Linked DNA regions of Homo sapiens: all the other regions are reported to be linked to region 4. The links are microRNA targets in miRTarBase. Many come from high-throughput screens and were not tested one by one. Region 4 holds a microRNA gene; each other region holds the end of a gene's coding sequence. Distances are between the middles of the regions.

Region 1 (3,000 bases), 33 Mb from region 4:
GAAACCTTATGAATGTAATCAGTGTGGAAAATCCTTTGGCACAAGCTCTTACCTTATAGTGCACAAGAGAATACACACTGGAGAAAAACTCTATGAATGCAGTGAGTGTGGAAAAGCCTTCAACACGAGCTCTCACCTTAAAGTTCATAAGAAAATTCATACCGGAGAGAATGTTTATGAATGCAGTGACTGTGGGAAAGTTTTCAGTGGGGTCTCATCCCTTAGAATGCATATAAGAACTCACACTGGAGAGAAACCCTATGAATGTAAGGAATGTAGGAAAGCCTTCAGTGTTTCCTCTTCCCTTAGGAGGCATGTGAGAATTCACACTGGAGAGAAACCCTATGAATGTATTCAATGTGGAAAAGCCTTCAGTCAGAGCTCTTCACTTATTATACACAAGAGAATTCATACTGAGAGAGAAACCCTGTAAGTGTTATGAATGTGGAATTGCTGTTTTCATTGTCTTAAGGTGGATTCCAAGCTCCTTGTCTCAGTCTTTGTTCTCTAAAAGAACGATTTAAGGTTACAAATGGCTCTTTTTTTAATATAACATTTTCTGTAAATACTAATTATGACTTTTTTTGATCCATGGCTGTTTAGAATTAGGTATTTTTAATATGTGAGGTAGGTATATTTTCAGTTATCTTTTTATTGTTGGTTTCTAGGTTAATTCCATTGTGTTCAGAGAATCTGGACTATATTTTACTGCTTTGTTGGTGTTTTTATAAAAGTTGTTTTCTGGCCCAGTGAGACTGGTATTGCTAGCAGCCAACCAAACATTTGAGCTCATCTTTCCTTACTAATGAATTCCATCTTAGCCAAGAACAATAAGGTCTCTGGTTATAGAACGCTTCTTTGACTTCTTGTAGCTAAGGGTAGCCATATCATTCATTCTTGCTGATTCAAAAATAGACATATCACTGGGATCAGAACTATCTATCTTGTCCTCTACTTTTTGCACTTCATCTTTGTCCCTATGAATTGGCCATTCCTGAAGCTGCTGAAAGAGCTATCTTGTGATCATGAAAATGACAGCTGTAGCCAAGGGATGAAGTAGAAGAAAGAGATCCCTGTTCCTCAAAGAAATCTTTAAATAGTTGTACCAGCCCTGCACTACTTGTATCTGGATATGTTCCTACATGAGAAAAATAAGGTTTTTTGTTTGTTTTTTGAGATGGAGTCTCGGTATGTTGCCCAGGCTGGAGTGCAGTGGCACAATCTCAGCTCACTGCAACCTCCACCTCCCAGGTTCAGGTGATTCTCCTGCCTCAGCCTCCTGAGTAGCTGGGATTACAGGCACCACCGCCATGCCTGGCTAATTTTAGTATTTTTAATAGAGACGGGGTTTCACCATGTTGGCCAGGTTGGTCTCAAACTCCTGACCTCAGGTGATCCACCCACCTAGGCGTCCCAAAGTGTTGGCATTACAGGCGTGAGCCACTGTGCCCGGCCAAGAAAAATATGTTAATTGATTTTTTCTTTTTTTTTTTCAATTTTTCAGACAGAGTCTCTGTCTCTCAGGCTAGAATGCAGTGGTGTGGTCATGGCTCATTGCAACCTCGACCTCCTGGGCTCAGGTGATCCACCACAGTCTCCTCAGTAGTTGGGATCACAAATGCATGCCACCATGCCTGGCTAATTTTAAAAATATATATTTTGTAGAGACAGGCTCTTCCTACATTGCTCAGACTGGTCTGAAACTCCTGGGCTCAAGCAGTCCTCCTGCCTTTGCCTCCCAAAGTGCTAGGATTCCAGGCATGAGTTACCATGCCTGGCTCTTACTGATTTTTTTTAAAGCACTACATAAATACAGTCAACGCAGTCACCATATTGTAGAAAAACAGAAGTATATACAGTTAAATGTTTTATGTTGGATGTACACATTTGAAGAGGAACATAGAAAAAAAGTATGGAAAAGGAATGTTGACCGAGCTTTTATGCTTAAGCAGCAGATGAAGATAGAACCAAGATCACTGAAAGCAAGTGTTTAGAACAGCAAAAAGAGTATCCCAACATTTCAGCATTGGAACTACAGAAAGTTTTCAGACAGAGGGGAAGTTACCAATTTTAAATGCTAAGTAAAGCATGAGATTTTGCTGCTTGATCTTGCAGATACTGACCAGATTAGTTCTAACAAAATATGGAAGGAGTGGCATACGGTGGAAGAAAGAAGGCAGTAGCTGCTGTTGTAGTTATTCATGTTAGCCTCAGAGGATGGTGAGACATCCAGATGAAGAGGTTGGTACGCAATTCTAGAATTGAGGAGGTGTCTAGATAGAGATATAAATTGTAGTGACATCAGTAAAGAGACAATAACAGGCTTTGGAAGGTGAGTAAGAATGAAAAGGGAAGGTCTGCCACCTACCCTGAAGACATACATTTAAAGGAACTATAGTAGAGAGATAAGAGGAAAACAAGAAGAGTGGAGTTTCACTGAACCAAGACAAACAAGTTTCAAAAAGGAAGGTGAAGTTGGCCAGGTGTGGTGGTTCACGCCTGTAATCCTGGCACTTTGAGAGGCTGAGGCAGGCGGATCACAAGGTCAGATCGAGACCATCCTGGCCAACATGGTGAAACCCTGGTTCTACTAAAATACAAAAATTAGCCGGGTGTGGTGGCACATGCCTGTAGTCCCAGCTACTCAGGAGCTGAGGCAGAAGAATCACTTGAACCTGGGAGGCAGAGGTTGCAGTGAGATGAGATCTCACCACTGCACTCCAGCCTGGTGACAGAGCAGGACTTCATCTCAAAAAAAAAAAAAAAAAAAGGAAGGTGAAGGTAAATGTTTTTAGTGTTACTTAGGGATCCAATTAGATGAAGTCTAAAAAGGTAAACATATACAGCCAAGTGAAGATCATTTGTGATTGTAGTTGGAAATAACATAGTGGTACATAATGAAGATGGTTGCTAGATTGGGCTGACTTTAGGAATCAATAAAGGGCAAAGAAGTAAAGACTGGATGTAGACAAGTTTGAATAATAGGAGAAAGGGTAGTAG
Region 2 (3,000 bases), not on the chromosome of region 4:
AGCTTATTCGAATAGCTCCTGGAGTAGTAACAATGAGAGACGGCAGGCAGCTTGATCCTGATTTGGTTGAGGCCCAGCGAAAAAAATTGCAGGAAATGGTTTCTTCTATTCAGGCTTCAATGGACAGGCACCTTCGGGATCAAAGTACAGAGCAGTCACCATCTGATCTTCCTCAAAGGAAAACAGAAGTTGTGAGTTCTTCTGCAAAGTCTGGGAGTCTTCAGACTGGTTTGCCTGAATCTTTTCCTTTAACTGGTGGTACTGAAAATTTGAATACAGAAACAACTGATGGCTGTGTAGCAGATGCACTGGGAGCAGCCTTTGCCACAAGGTCAAAAGCACAAAGGGGAAATTCCGTGGAGGAGCTTGAAGAGATGGATAGTCAAGATGCTGAGATGACTAACACAACTGAGCCAATGGATCACTCTTGATTTAATTAGAGGCTAATAAAGGCAGAATGTTTATTGTGAATATGTAATATTTGTTGGCTGGGCCACGTAACTTGATTAGTCATTAAAAATCTTGTACGTATATAATTCAAAGATTATATCTTGTTATTCAGTGCATGATAGCAAGTGTGTGATTGGCCATAGCTTTTAATATACTGCTGCCCAGGCTGGCTCTGAATTTCTATAAATTAGCTGTTAGATCTGCTGAGATGACTTTCTTCCATATATGTGGTTCATTGGAAGTTCTTTGTAATTTTAATTCCATGAAAGTCTTAATGTTTCCAACATGAAAATTCTCTTACTTAAATACGTTTGATTTCTGAAAAGCCTACAAATGGAGGGGAAATGAGATTGTGCTAATGTTGATGTCATCAAGGTAACCATCTCATATACTAGTGTCAAAAGGTTTATGTAAACTTGAATTTTATCTGAACTAAATTGTATCTTAAAATTCATACAATTATTTATTAGACAGTGGAATGCAAATGTTTCTATGAACGTAAACACATTCATAGAGATTTCTTGGCGAAAATATCTTGAGAATAGAATGTAACGATATAACATTTTGCTGATTTGTGCAAGATTGGGGAAAAATTTCTTCTAGATTGATGAGGTCAATGTGATTCAGTTGTGTTGCTGTCTGAGCCACAGCCAATTGTGTGTGCTCTATTAATATGTTACCATTATTTTTGATTCCTGGCTTGGTCAAGAACAACCTGATTTTTTTTTTTTTAATCTTGCAGAAAAGTTGATTGCAAAGTGTGGTAGAAAAAGAAATAATGGTAGCAGTAGAGAATTTATAAATAAGAGTTTATCTTTATGAATGAGTTAATTGTTCTACAATTTTGATCAGTGGTATTTAAGCCTGTATATGCTAAGTGTATTTATGCCCCTTTGAGCCAAAATTTTTTTTTTTTTTTCAGAATCCATAAGAGTTTATTTGTTGGCTTCACTTGGGTTTAGATGCAAATTTTACTGCATCACACCCTGATCAGCTGGGTATTTGCTTAGTGTATTCATCAAATCTTCAGTGCCAGTTTCCTTGAGAAGCAGCTTTCATGCTTATTCCTTAAAAACAACAGAAGAGTGTTTATCCTGAGATTGGTATTGCACTATTTTATTTTATTCTGCAAATCTGTATCCTGAAGTGTACATTTCAACCCATATTCTTCTCTGTTCACTGAAATTAAGTTGAATTTGAATGGCTGAAAGACAAAATATATGTTAATACAATCTCTTACCTAGAGCATTCAAAGCCTGGCTGTCTCTGTTTGCACATGTAACAGATGCAGAACTGTGTTTGTAATTCTAAGAAAATGTATGTCAGAAAGTATTTTATCAGATGTTTAAAAATCTCTGCCTGTTGATTCATAAGGGATATAGACAGTACTTTAACTTGTGTTTCCAGATAAGGCAGATTTTGGTCATCTTTCTGTGAAAGTATCTCTAACTGAATCCACTTCTTAAACAAACTACTCTATTTTAAATAAGGAAAGAATGGAGAATCTAGACATTTTACAGGTGTATCTGAGCAAAATATATATTTGGGTTAGTTTTTATCACATTATCACGTTTGTCTTTATATTTTATCTTCATCCTAAATTTTCTCCCTATCAAAACAGCAGGAAATTTTTAAACTTTTATATTGTACACTATTTTTGCATAAAATAAGAGCTGTAGCTACCAAATACTATTTACTACTTAGTAAAGGTGGCTTCTGTGTATTAAACTACGAATTACAAATATCACTTCACTAACCACTATAATTATTTTTGGCTTTTTCAGCCACTGGAACTTTTTTTGGGGGGATTTAAATACAGGAAAACTGTTTAAGCAAAAAATGCACTGCTTTCATGTAAAATGATATAATCTTCTTTAACAAATATTTTCTTCATTGATAACTGACAGATATCTCATAGCATTAACATAAAATACCAGAAACAAACTTTATCTCCCTATTCTTACATTTAGTGCAAATTGGAATGCGTATGTGAATGTTAGAAGATGGACTTAATCTCTGACAACTTTATTAATTTCTCTAGCTACAGCAATGCTATTTAAAAGCCAGTTAGGTATGAATAGTACAGTAATAGTTTGGGTTCTCCCTTGATAAATGAATAAAAGGCTCAATTCTGATAAGTGATCAAATTTCTTGAAATTCTTTCAAATCAGCTGAAAATTTGGTTGGGGTGAATTGATGGTTTTTGAGAAGTAGGCCAGGTATCCTCACAAAGAAGTTTTAGAATAGGGTTTCTTTTAAGTTTTTAAATATCATCCTTTGTCTTTCCATATGGTTTTCATAACCAAATACATGACTATAGCATGGTTATTTTTCTAGTACTGCCATTTGTGATATAGCCACATCTTGGCGTGCAAGCTAGACATCTCAGGTAAATTTGTTTTTTTTTTTTTTTTTAGCCCTAGAGGTAACATTATAACTAAAATGCATTCCTGCAATTCTGTTTGCAGTGCTTCACTAAACATTGAAATAAAGTTGTAAATTTTTTCTTCAGTAATCCATTTTATAGTTAATCATACCAAATTTAAGTTG
Region 3 (3,000 bases), 51 Mb from region 4:
GGATCTAGCCGGTCACTGCTGGTCCATTTTGCGACTGAAGTGTGTCCCATCCTGGAAACCAGGCAGACACCTGCCTAGGAAATACTTGTAGCTTTACAGTCCTTGGCTGCCTAAACATCCTTCTACCTCCAAGCTTAAACTTGGAACCAAACCACCCTCCTCTGATACTTGAATTGGAATTTTTACTCTCTCAAAGCCTACCCTGGCAGGCCATGCCCTCCGCTGTCATCCAGGAAGTATGGGTTCCAATTTCTGCCCAAGACCAGCCAAGCCCTTTGGGCATACAACCAGAGCCTCCCTTCTCTGTAGTCCTCCCCAGATCTCCCCGACTTCCATCTCTCCTCACATTCAGCATTAAGCAGGACTGGGAGGTGAGGATACCAGGGGCCCATTTCTCTACTAACTTTGCAGTCTCCTTTGGAACTTCCCCAGAACCAGGAACAGAGCTTGGTACTTATTGTCTCATTTAGGACTTCCAACTTTTTTCCCCTTCTCTTCTTTGCCAGGCATCTAATAGCTGCTGTTTTTCAAATGAATGACTTCTCAGTTGGAAGCTGCTGAAGGGCAGTGGACACTCAAAAGTCTTTGTAAGAGGTGAGGATCACTTCCCTTAACCGTCCATCTAGGCACCTCTCCAGCTTTCTCCCTCTCTGGACTCCCGGGGCTCCATTTTCAGCCACTCAGATCTCATCTCAGAGGCACCACGTCCAATTTCTTTTGTTTAGAAGTCATTTCTTCTAAGAAGCCTTCCTTGATGTCCCAACACTGCCCACCTGTGTTCCCTCGAGAACCATTACTTAACTGCAGTGTTAGAACAGTATTAGAATTATCTGGCACCTTACTAGACAAAGCAATCTTAAGCACACACATATTTATCATGTATCTCCAAGGTTAAGTGCCTACTCTACAGAAGGGTGCTTTGCAAGCATTTGTGGAATCTACACTTTGTGTTTCATATTCACCCTCCCCTCACCACACTCTATGGCTAGTACTCATAGCAACTTTGTGTACATCAGAAAAAACCAGGCCAGGCACAGTGGCTCACTCCTGTAATCCCAACACTTTGGGGGCGAGGCAAGGACTGCTTGAGGCCATGAGTTGAAGACCAACTTGGTCAACATAGTGACACCCCGTTTCAAAAAAAAAAAATTAATTAGTGGGAGGTAGTGGTACATGCCTGTAGTCTTAGGTACTCAGGAGGCTGAGGAAGGAGGATCACTTGGGTGCAAGAGTTCAAGGCTGTAGAGTGAGCTAAGATCATGCCACTGCACTCTAACCTGGGTGACAGAGTGAGGACCCCCCCCCCCAAAAAAAAGATGGCTGGGTGTTGTGGCTAACCCCTGTAATTCCATCATTTGGGGAGTCCAAGGTAGGTGGATCACTTGAGCTCAGGAGTTCAAGACCAGCCCAGGCAACATGGCAAAACCCCATCTCTACTAAAAATACAAAAATTAGCCAGGCATGGTAGCATGTGTCTGTTGTCCTAGCTATTCTGGAGCCTGAGCTGGAAGAATGGCTTGAGCCCAGAATGCGGAGGTTGCAGTGAGCTGAGATTGCACCACTGCACTCCAGCCAGGGTGATAGAGCCAGACCTTGTCTCACAAAAAAAAAAAAAAAAAAAAGAAGAAGAAAAAAGAAAAAAAAAGCACCCCTTCCTCAAGATGACTGACATTTATTAGAAAACTATCATAGTAACTATCCACACAATGACTATGAGGTGAATGGTGTCCCTGGAAGCTGTGCAATACACAATCTGTATAAGCCTAAGTTTTGCGCTCTTACTCCCAACATAGCACATGGGCTTTTCAAGAAACTGATGGCCTCTAGTAAAAAGCTAGATTCTTCTCTCAGGTAGGAAATGAAAATCCTTGTCAGCCAGCCACTTATTTTACTCTATATCCAATAGTTAAGCCAGGGAGGATAGGGCTGAAGGTATGAGTGTATCGGGGAGGTTAGCCTACTCCTATGCCCATGTCCTACCCCCAATACTCAAGGTACAGAAACAAGGCCATGAATATAAGGAGGAGTCAGGGGACAAGCCAGCTTTAAGCAAGACTGAGGATGGAGGAGTTTCCCACTGCCCAACTGCATGGCCTAACACCAGATCCAAGTCCCCAAAGGATGGTAATAATATAGATGAAGGGGAAGGAAAAGGATGGTGGGCAGGACCCCTCTGCTTCTCTTACTGGGCAGACGCCGGGCTGGTGGGAGCAAGGCTGTTCAAATATACACAGAGACAGGTGCTTTAAAAAAACAAAGCAAACCCTGGGATCAACTTTATTGCTGATGGCTGAAGCCTCCTCCTCCCTATCCCCTTGGTCTTTCAGGTGGTCCAAAGCCCCTCCAGGATAGCACAGTGCTTAGGCTCTGCTGGGCCAGAGGCAAGGGAGACAATCTATCTCCCGAGCCTGCCCTGGCCCAGTCCTTTCCCTGCCCCTACCCCACCCTATTGCACATCAAATCATGTAAACATGGCTATGGGGATGGCCCAGAACAGCAGTGAGGCAGATTGATGTGTAAACAGATTTGGGATCAGGGGCTAGACCCAGTCACCCAGCCCTACCCCATGCTGAGGCCACAGTTAAGTATGGAAAAGCAGGAGGTCCTGGTCCCAAACTCTGGCTCAGATTATGCAATAGTGCAGATGGCTCTGCTCCCCTCTGCCACCCACCCTCTCAGATTCCAGGTCCTGAGGTCCAAGTAGCCTTGGGCTTCCCTCCAGGCCTAGGCAGCAGATGGCAGTGTCCAGTTTTTTCCTTCCCACCCCCAGCTGGAGGTCACTGGTGCTGGGTCTTCCTAGATGCCTGGGGGAAACCGGAGACGGGCAGCGGCAGTCTGTCCAGCCCTGGAGAAGAGGAGATGGGCAGTCAAAAGCAAGTCAAAGGTCCAGTCCGTTAGGGACCAGGCAGCCAAGCCACAGAATGTGTGGATGAGGTACGTTACCCACAAAGCAGGAAGCACACCCTCTCCCCTGCTGGGGTGATCCATGTTCCAGAGTGT
Region 4 (4,375 bases):
ATTGTGGAAATGGTAAACTAGGTAGTCGTGACTAATTAGTGGCTTCTAACTAGTGTTCTGTGAAATACTCTGCCTAAAGTGCTCAGTTCAGTAAACATCCTGAGCACTCGGTTGTGTGAGACCATCTGAGGGGCAAGGAGCTGAGAGGATCCCTAGGGAGACTGTGGCTTTCATGATTGTCCAGTAGGCAGTAGCTCACCAGCCAGCACAGGGGGCCCTCAGTCGGCTAGAGATTCAGGATGGTTTTGCTCCCTGATCTAGTCTTTGAGCATCTGCTGTTGTGTCCTACTAGAGCATCACCTCCTAGGAGGAGATTTTGTCAGTATAGTTCACTACTGTGCCTTTCATGCTTAGAGGATGCCAGATGCTTATTGCCTAACCCAAGCTTTAAGCCCTCATATCCTCTTGGAGTGTGTGTGTGTGTGTGTGTGTGTGTGTGTGTGTGTGTGTGTGTAAACCTCTCCCTCTCTGGATCAGTGAGAGTGTTGTTAAGGTTACAAATAAGAAATGCCTAGCACACTGCCTGACTGATTGTAAGTGCTCTGTAAATGGTGGCTACACACCCCAGGCCTGCTGGCATTGCTGCCACTGTTGCCCCTCTGACTCTTTTGAGCCAGTAGGTGAAGTGTGTCTCCACTCCCTTGGGTGGAGTGGACAGGGTGCCTTTCTCAAGGGCAGTTGTGAGGGCTGAGCTGGCCGGGAAGGTGTGCTCTTCCTTCCAGGCCTCCCTCCCACAGGTCTTCTGCGGGCCCTGCAGTTGGCCCTGCTCTGACTCTTAGTTTTTGCTTCATTCTTGACCCACTCAGGCCTGGTAGAAAGAGTTATCTGTGAGCACGGCGGGGGTTCCCAAGAATCTATTATGGTTTTAGTGTCTAGGACTCTAAAGTCGTGACAGTGACTCGTCTCTTCAGCCCCTGTTTGCAGCAGAGGGCGCAAACCAGCTCAAAGCAGGCACACAGATGTTTGGTGAATTGGGAGAAGTTGTTCCTGTCCAGGAGCCATAACGTGGTATTTGTAATTTTCCTCGTTGGAAGGCATGGCTCTGTCTGCCAAGAAAGACAAGGCATGTAGTCACCATGCTGCTGCCTCACAGTGACATTTTTAAAGCCAGACCTTCTAGAGAAGGAAGCAGGAAGGAAGGCGACTTGCTTTTGGGCCCGTGGAGTTTCAGCAGTTGCGGGAAGTTGGCTGGGCTGTGTGTGTGTGTTGCTGCATTGGTGCCTGGTCTTCTTTGATAGCTCCCAGGAGCATGAGGTTGTGCTTAGCAGTTGTGTCCCATCAGTCCTCTTGGTCTCGATCAGTTCACACGCTCCCAGGGCCCCACGTATCAGAAGGGCCGCCGTTGCATAACACTGTCCATGGAAATCACTGCAGTCATGAGAGGAGCAGTGGCTTTGGCCTGTAGACTCAGAGACCTTTCACCATGACTCAGCATGGGAAGCGGAGGCTCAGAGAACTTCAGCCTGTCTTGTCCAGGGCCACCAAGGGAGCAACTGAGCCATGTCTTCTGTTATATTTAGAGTTGGGGGCTGAGGAGGGGCGCCTATCTGCATTCTCTGCCGGTCCTGGGTCCACCTGTTGCAGGGACCCAATTCTAAGGGACCTGAATCAATTCAATCTACTGCCTCAGCCTTTCAGAGGCTTCTCATTGCTTTAGGCTGAAGGCTGTGCTGCTGAACATGGCCTTCAGGGTCCCATGGGGTCTGACTCCTGTCATTTCCTCTGTTGCAGGCCCACTTGACTTCTTGCAGTTCTTCAGATGTATTGTCTTCCCGACAGGCCCTGCCTCAGGCTGTCCCTTTGCAGGGCGGGCTGTCTCTTCTCTGGTTACTTCTGTTCGTTCTTCAGAGAAGCCTTCCCTGTTCCTCCCATTCCTCACTGCCGTGCTTCTCCTTCACAGCCCTTACCACTGCCTGTAGTTACTGTATTTCTTTGTGTACTCATCTGTGGTCTAGCTCCCTTGCAAGGCTGGGAGCTCCATGGGGCAGGGACCCTGTCTGTCTTGTCTCTGGTTTACCCCAGTGCCTCACACGGCCTGGTACATAGTGGGTGTCCAGCATCGACTTGAGGAAGAGTGATGAGGGAAGGCTCCAGACCCTTTCAGGGGCAGAGTTGCTCTACTGCTCCTGCTCCTGCTGCTTGGGGCTCATCATCCTCTGCCCTGCACACCCGTGGCAGGGGGGGTCTGCCCACACCCACCTGCCTTTGTGCCACACTCCCTTCCCTAGCAGGACGATGGTTCCTCTCAGCACTGTCCTTTTTGTTTGGCCTCCTGGTGGGAGGTGAAGCCAGCTGGACTTCCTGGGTCGAGTGGGGACTTGGAGAACTTTTCTGTCTAGCTAGAGGATTGTAAACACACCAGTCAGCGCTGTGTCTAGCTAAAGGATTGTAAATGCACCAATCAGCACTCTGTAAAAACGCACCAATCAGTGCTCTGTGTCCAGCTAAAGGATTGTAAACACACCAATCAGTACTCTGTAAAATGGATCAATCAGCACTCTGTAAAATGGACCAATCAGCGCTCTGTAAAATGGACCAATGAGCAGGATGTGGGCAGGGACAAATGAGGGAATAAAAGCTGGCCACCCCACCCAGCAGCGGCAACCTGCTCGGGTCCCCTTCCATGCTGTGGAACCTTTGTTCTTTCGCTCTTCATCATAAATCTTACTGCTGCTCACTCTTTGGGTCCGTGCCACCTTTAAGAGCTGCAACACTCACCGCAAAGGTCTGCAGCTTCATTCTTGAAGTTGGCGAGACTAAGAACCCACCAGAAGGAACCAATTCTGGACACTGGGAAGGATGTTACCTTCGGACACAGTGTTGTTCACTTTTTTGACTGGGAACCGACAGCAGATAATACACCTTTGTATGTAAATGTATACTGTCAGTATGTACATAAAACTGAAAGAAAAATGTCACTGCTACATATAGTAAAGCTAAGTACTATTTTCTCTTTTAATACTAAAAAAAATGCTTGTCCCCTCAAAATTGACTTCTTATCTTCTTAATTTGATATCCTGGCCCACAGTGGGTCACCACTCAAGTTTAGAGAAGCCCATTCTGCAGGACTGCCTGGCTGTGCAGCTGGTGCTCCCTCCCTCCCTGCTGCATTTTCCTCTCCCCCTCACTGTGGGATGGGGCTGAGGTTGTTCCCTTGGGTAAGAGGCTGTCCCTCCCTGCCTTCAGCAGTTTGAAGGGTTCTCAGGAAGACAGGCAGGCAAGGCCTGTGAGTCCTCTGCCACAGGTGCCGTAGGGTGCAGTTCAAGGCTGAACCCAGCATGTCACAGCCTCCCTGGGTGCACCAGGAAGAAATGGCTTATTCTTTGCGGTGTGGGTTTTGGGAGAGGCTAGTGATGGTTTTGCTCTGAAGACGAGTTTTGACTTAAAGGGCTTGAGCGATGGAGAGGGACTGGCCAAAGGGAAATGTAAGTTCAAGGACACCCATGCAGAGGCAAGGAAGTCAGAACAGGGTGTGTCTCACAAGTGGCATGGGTTCTCATGCCAGGTGCATAGGGTGCTTAAGGGGGTGAGGATAGAAGAGGAGCTGAGGAGGCCAGGGAGCCCAGGGTGAAGGGGTGGGGGTGTCTGCCCTTTGGGCAGTAGGGAACCAGTGGAGCTGTACCTGTCTGAAAGTTCTACAACAAGAGTATTGTTTCTTAGATGTTTGGTTTATTTGAGGCTGTGCACGTTTTATTAGGTGTTTGCTCTAATGTGTTAGAATTGGAAGGATGATGTACTCATCTGTCCAGGTAAATGTCTAGAGTATTTTGGAAAGGGTCTTTCTGATGACACCCTCCCAGATCCTCAGGATCAAAAGACATCATATCAGAAGTAAATATATTCTAACTTTGGACATTAATGCTCCAAACTTGAATGCCAGCTGAAGCCTGGACCACAGCAGAAAGCAGCCTCTCAAAGTCCTTGGTTTGAAGGGCAATAGCTTTTTAGAGAGTGATTGTATTAATTTGCTCTGGCTGCTGTAACAAGTTACCATAAACTTGATGTTTTAAAACAACACATATTAATTCTCTGATAGTTTGGGAGGCCAGAAGTTCAAAATCAGCTTCACTAGGCCTAAGTTCAGGTGTCGACAGGACTGGTTTCTTTGGAGGCTCCAGGGCAAAGTCGGTTCCGGGCCTCTTCCAGCTTCTGGTGGCTGCTGGCATTGCTTGGTCTATGGCTGGCTTGCTGTAATCTCTGCTTCCCTGGCCACATTGCCATCTCCTCTTCTGCAGTTGAATCTAGGCCCACTCCTGAGATAACAGCGTTAATCCATTCGTGAGGACTGAGCCTTCATGGCCTAATCACCTCTTAATGGTTCCACCTCTTAATACTATCACAGTGACAATTACATTTCAACATGAGTTTTGGAGGG
Region 5 (3,000 bases), not on the chromosome of region 4:
TAAAATTCTATCCCTGGAGATTCTGATTCAATAGATGAGGAACTGGGCCCAGGGAGTAGCTAGTTTTTTTTTTTTTTTTTTTTGAGACAGAGTCTCGCTCTGTCACCCAGGCTGGAGTGCAGTGGTGCTATCTCTGCTCAGTGCAACCTCTGCCTCCTGAGTTCAAGCGATTCTCCTGCCTCACCCTCCTGAGTAGCTGGGACTATAGGCACGTGCCACCATGTCAGGCTAATTTTTTTAAAATGTATCCTTAGTAGAGACGGGGTTTCACCATGTTAGCCAGGATGGTCTCGGTCTCCTGACCTTGCGATCCGCCCGCCTCAGCCTCCCAAAATGCTGGGATTACAGGTGTGAGCCACCACGCCCGGCCGAGAATAGCTACATTTTTAAAAGATACTTAGCCTGGCCCTACCTCTAGGTGGAAATATCTGTGCCACCAACTGAGGAGCTGAGAATGGGGTGGGGCTAAGGCTTAAGGGTTTCACGACACTAAAAAAAATTGACGAAATGCTGGAAGGTTGGGTCATGAGGGCAGGAAGCAGAGGAGTTGGAGCCTGGTTTCTGGGCCATAAGTAAACTTTACAAACTTCAAAGCTCTCAGAGACCTCTAGGTAATAATCACGGCATCTTTAATTGGCAAACTCAGGGCCAAGATCTATCTGGCTGTCAGTCTGGGCTGAGAACTGGTGTTGCAAGCTGGGCTTTCCCCAGGCTGTGTTGAGGGTTAGGGGAGGGGACTGAGATGTACACTGGAAATTAAAACCTGGTACAAAGGTATCTCCTACTGCCAAGGTTCCTCTTCTCACCCCATGTGCCCCTGTGATAAAGTGACACACGAGTCAACCCGCCCCAGAAAAGCTGAGGGAGAGAGAGACCACGGTGGGATTGGATTGGAGATGAGGTTCGAATAAAGTCAGTTCATTACTTGACACCCGAACAGTGTCTTTTCTCCAAAACTTCTACCTCCTTTCAGGCTGATAAATCTGGTTCCTTCCTCCCTGGGTAGGCCAGACACAGGGCTGAGCTGGGTGACAGGTGAGGGCGCACAGGCCAGCAGAGGTCACAGGCCCTTGCTCTCCTTGGGCAGGTGTTGTCCTGACCAGAGGCAGGGCAGGGGCTGCCCGTGGCTGGACTCTGCCCACAAAGGAATTAGTGGTAGCTGGATAATGGAGTCGTGAAGTGCTGGAGGGATTCCGTGTAGAACTTGGGGATACAGATGGGTACGGTTGCCACTGGCTACAAATCTAACACCAGGTGTTCCTGGCCTAGCCCCCTCTGCCCATGATGGCACATACTTAAAGACAGCAAAGATGGTGCGTACCTAAAGACAGGAAAGATGCAAGGACTGTTTTGACACAGACATGGGTTCAAGAAATACTTCCCTTTCTTCTTTGCTGTACTTTAAGATAAACACCAAAAACACTAAAAGCAAGCCATGATGAATGGCTACTCATGCTTGGTCAGGAGCTGATGGGATGAGTGGCCGGACCACAGTAAGTTGGGAGTTCTGGCTCCGGCCCAACTCCCAACAACTGCGACTTTCTGAGAGCCTAGGTGAACTTGCGAAATCTTTGGATTTTTCAAGAGATGCCAGAAACCTGGATTTTGGTGCAAAATATCCCTTTAGATCTTCATCACTAATTCTTATCACTTAAAAACACTGCCTGGGCCCAAATCAATACAGCAACTGCAGGCGAGATCCAATACAGGGTCACTGGTTTTTTAGGTTGTGCAGCAAAAAGACAATGAAGGCCAGTGCAGTGGCTCCCCTGTAATCCCAGCACTTTGGGAGGCCAAGGTGGGCGAATTGCTTGAACCGAGGAGTTTGAGACCAGCCTGATCAACATAGTGGGAACCCCATCTCTGCAAAAAAATTTAAAAATTAGCCAGGCATAGTGTTGCCCACCTGTAGTCACAGCCATCTGAGAGGCTGGGGCAGGAGGATTCCTTGAGCCCAGCAGGTCTAGGCTGCAGTGAGCCCAGTTCACACCACTGCATTCCAGCCTGGGTGAGGAGCAAGATGCTGTCTTAATAAGTAAATAAATAAACAAAAAAAACAGACAATGGGTATTGTCTTGTGGGAAGGTCAAAGAATAAAAAAGAAAAGGCCAGGTGAGGTGGCTCACGCCTGTAATCCCAGCACTTTGGGAGGCAGAGGTGGGTGGATCACCTGAGGGCAGGAGTTCGAGACCAGCCTAGCCAACATGGTGAAACCCCATCTCTACTAAAAATACAAAAAGTTAGCCGGGCATAGTGGCAGGTGCCTGTAATTCCAGCTACTTGGGTGGCTGAGGCAGGAGAATCGCTTGACTCCAGGAGGTGGAAGTTGCAGTGAGTCGAGATCGCACCATTGCACTCCAGCCTGGGCAACAAGAGCAAAACTCCGTCTCAAAAAATTAAAAAAGTAAAAAGAAAAAGACAACAGAGAAAACAAGGTTCTTCTCTACCTCAATCCTCTTAGCATCTCTGGGAGGAGAAACAGCTTTTGCTTCCCTGTATGGAGGTCTGGGGGGTTCTCACCTCAGCCCTGCCTCAGCAAAGGGGGCCTTGGAGAGCCCAGGGCAGCGGGGAGCAAGGTGCTGGCAGAAGAGGCTGCTGAGAGCCCAAGATCAGACTGTCCGCACCCCAGGCCAGCTCTTGCGGTGGATTCTGGGACCTCCCTGCAGGCCGCTGCAGAGGTTCGGGCCCCTGAGCCCATCTCGGGCCGCCCACAATGTCTAGATGGTCACTTTTTAGGCCGTCACCCACATTCCTGGAATATCTCTGGATACAGCTGGAAGCCCACAGGCGGGTCCAGGTCCCCGCGGACAGGAGTCAGGGTCACAGACAGCCCCCCAGGGCGCCGGCCCCTACGCCCCTCGCCCCCGGGCCGATGGACCCATTGGTGCTTGGCCATGCCGGTCTTCAGGCCGAAGCAGCGGCCACACTGCGGGCAGCGGTAGGGCTTCTCGCCAGTGTGAACGCGCAGGTGAGAAGTCAGCGCCGTGCGGCGCATGAAGG

Evidence for each region. The annotated mature microRNA hsa-miR-1827 reads UGAGGCAGUAGAUUGAAU and lies in region 4 at 1,612-1,629, opposite strand. An mRNA with a match to its seed (bases 2 to 7 or 8) in the 3' UTR can be bound and repressed. Matches are read on the target gene's strand: a 7mer-m8 pairs with bases 2 to 8, a 7mer-A1 pairs with bases 2 to 7 and ends in A, and an 8mer does both.
Region 1: miRTarBase lists ZNF891 as a target of hsa-miR-1827. Seed matches in the 3' UTR shown: 8mer at 1,267-1,274.
Region 2: the mRNA of VCPIP1 is a reported target of hsa-miR-1827. The part of its 3' UTR that is shown has no 7-base or 8-base seed match.
Region 3: miRTarBase lists LMBR1L as a target of hsa-miR-1827. Seed matches in the 3' UTR shown: 8mer at 2,501-2,508.
Region 5: the mRNA of ZNF747 is a reported target of hsa-miR-1827. Seed matches in the 3' UTR shown: 8mer at 2,290-2,297, 7mer-m8 at 2,149-2,155 and 7mer-m8 at 1,103-1,109.

What each region holds. Positions count from the first base shown.
Region 1 is chr12:133,117,717-133,120,716 of GRCh38, reverse strand. It overlaps ZNF891 (zinc finger protein 891), which reads left to right. Exons shown (of 2, transcript NM_001277291.2): 2 at 1-3,000. The coding sequence ends at 433. Among named protein-coding and RNA genes, the nearest start is that of ZNF891, 11 kb to the left of the region's middle.
Region 2 is chr8:66,631,932-66,634,931 of GRCh38, reverse strand. It overlaps VCPIP1 (valosin containing protein interacting protein 1), which reads left to right. Exons shown (of 3, transcript NM_025054.5): 3 at 1-3,000. The coding sequence ends at 431. Among named protein-coding and RNA genes, the nearest start is that of MYBL1, 20 kb to the right of the region's middle.
Region 3 is chr12:49,094,895-49,097,894 of GRCh38, forward strand. LMBR1L (limb development membrane protein 1 like) reads right to left here. Exons shown (of 17, transcript NM_018113.4): 17 at 2,245-2,845. The coding sequence ends at 2,778. It overlaps DHH-AS1 (DHH antisense RNA 1), which reads left to right. Exons shown (of 4, transcript XR_007063295.1): 4 at 507-850. Among named protein-coding and RNA genes, the nearest start is that of DHH, 1.6 kb to the left of the region's middle.
Region 4 is chr12:100,187,186-100,191,560 of GRCh38, reverse strand. MIR1827 (microRNA 1827) reads right to left here and starts at 1,677; the gene lies at 1,612-1,677.
Region 5 is chr16:30,529,759-30,532,758 of GRCh38, forward strand. ZNF747 (zinc finger protein 747) reads right to left here. Exons shown (of 3, transcript NM_001305018.2): 3 at 609-3,000. The coding sequence ends at 2,741. It also overlaps a transcript of ZNF768 not described here. Among named protein-coding and RNA genes, the nearest start is that of ZNF747, 3.6 kb to the right of the region's middle.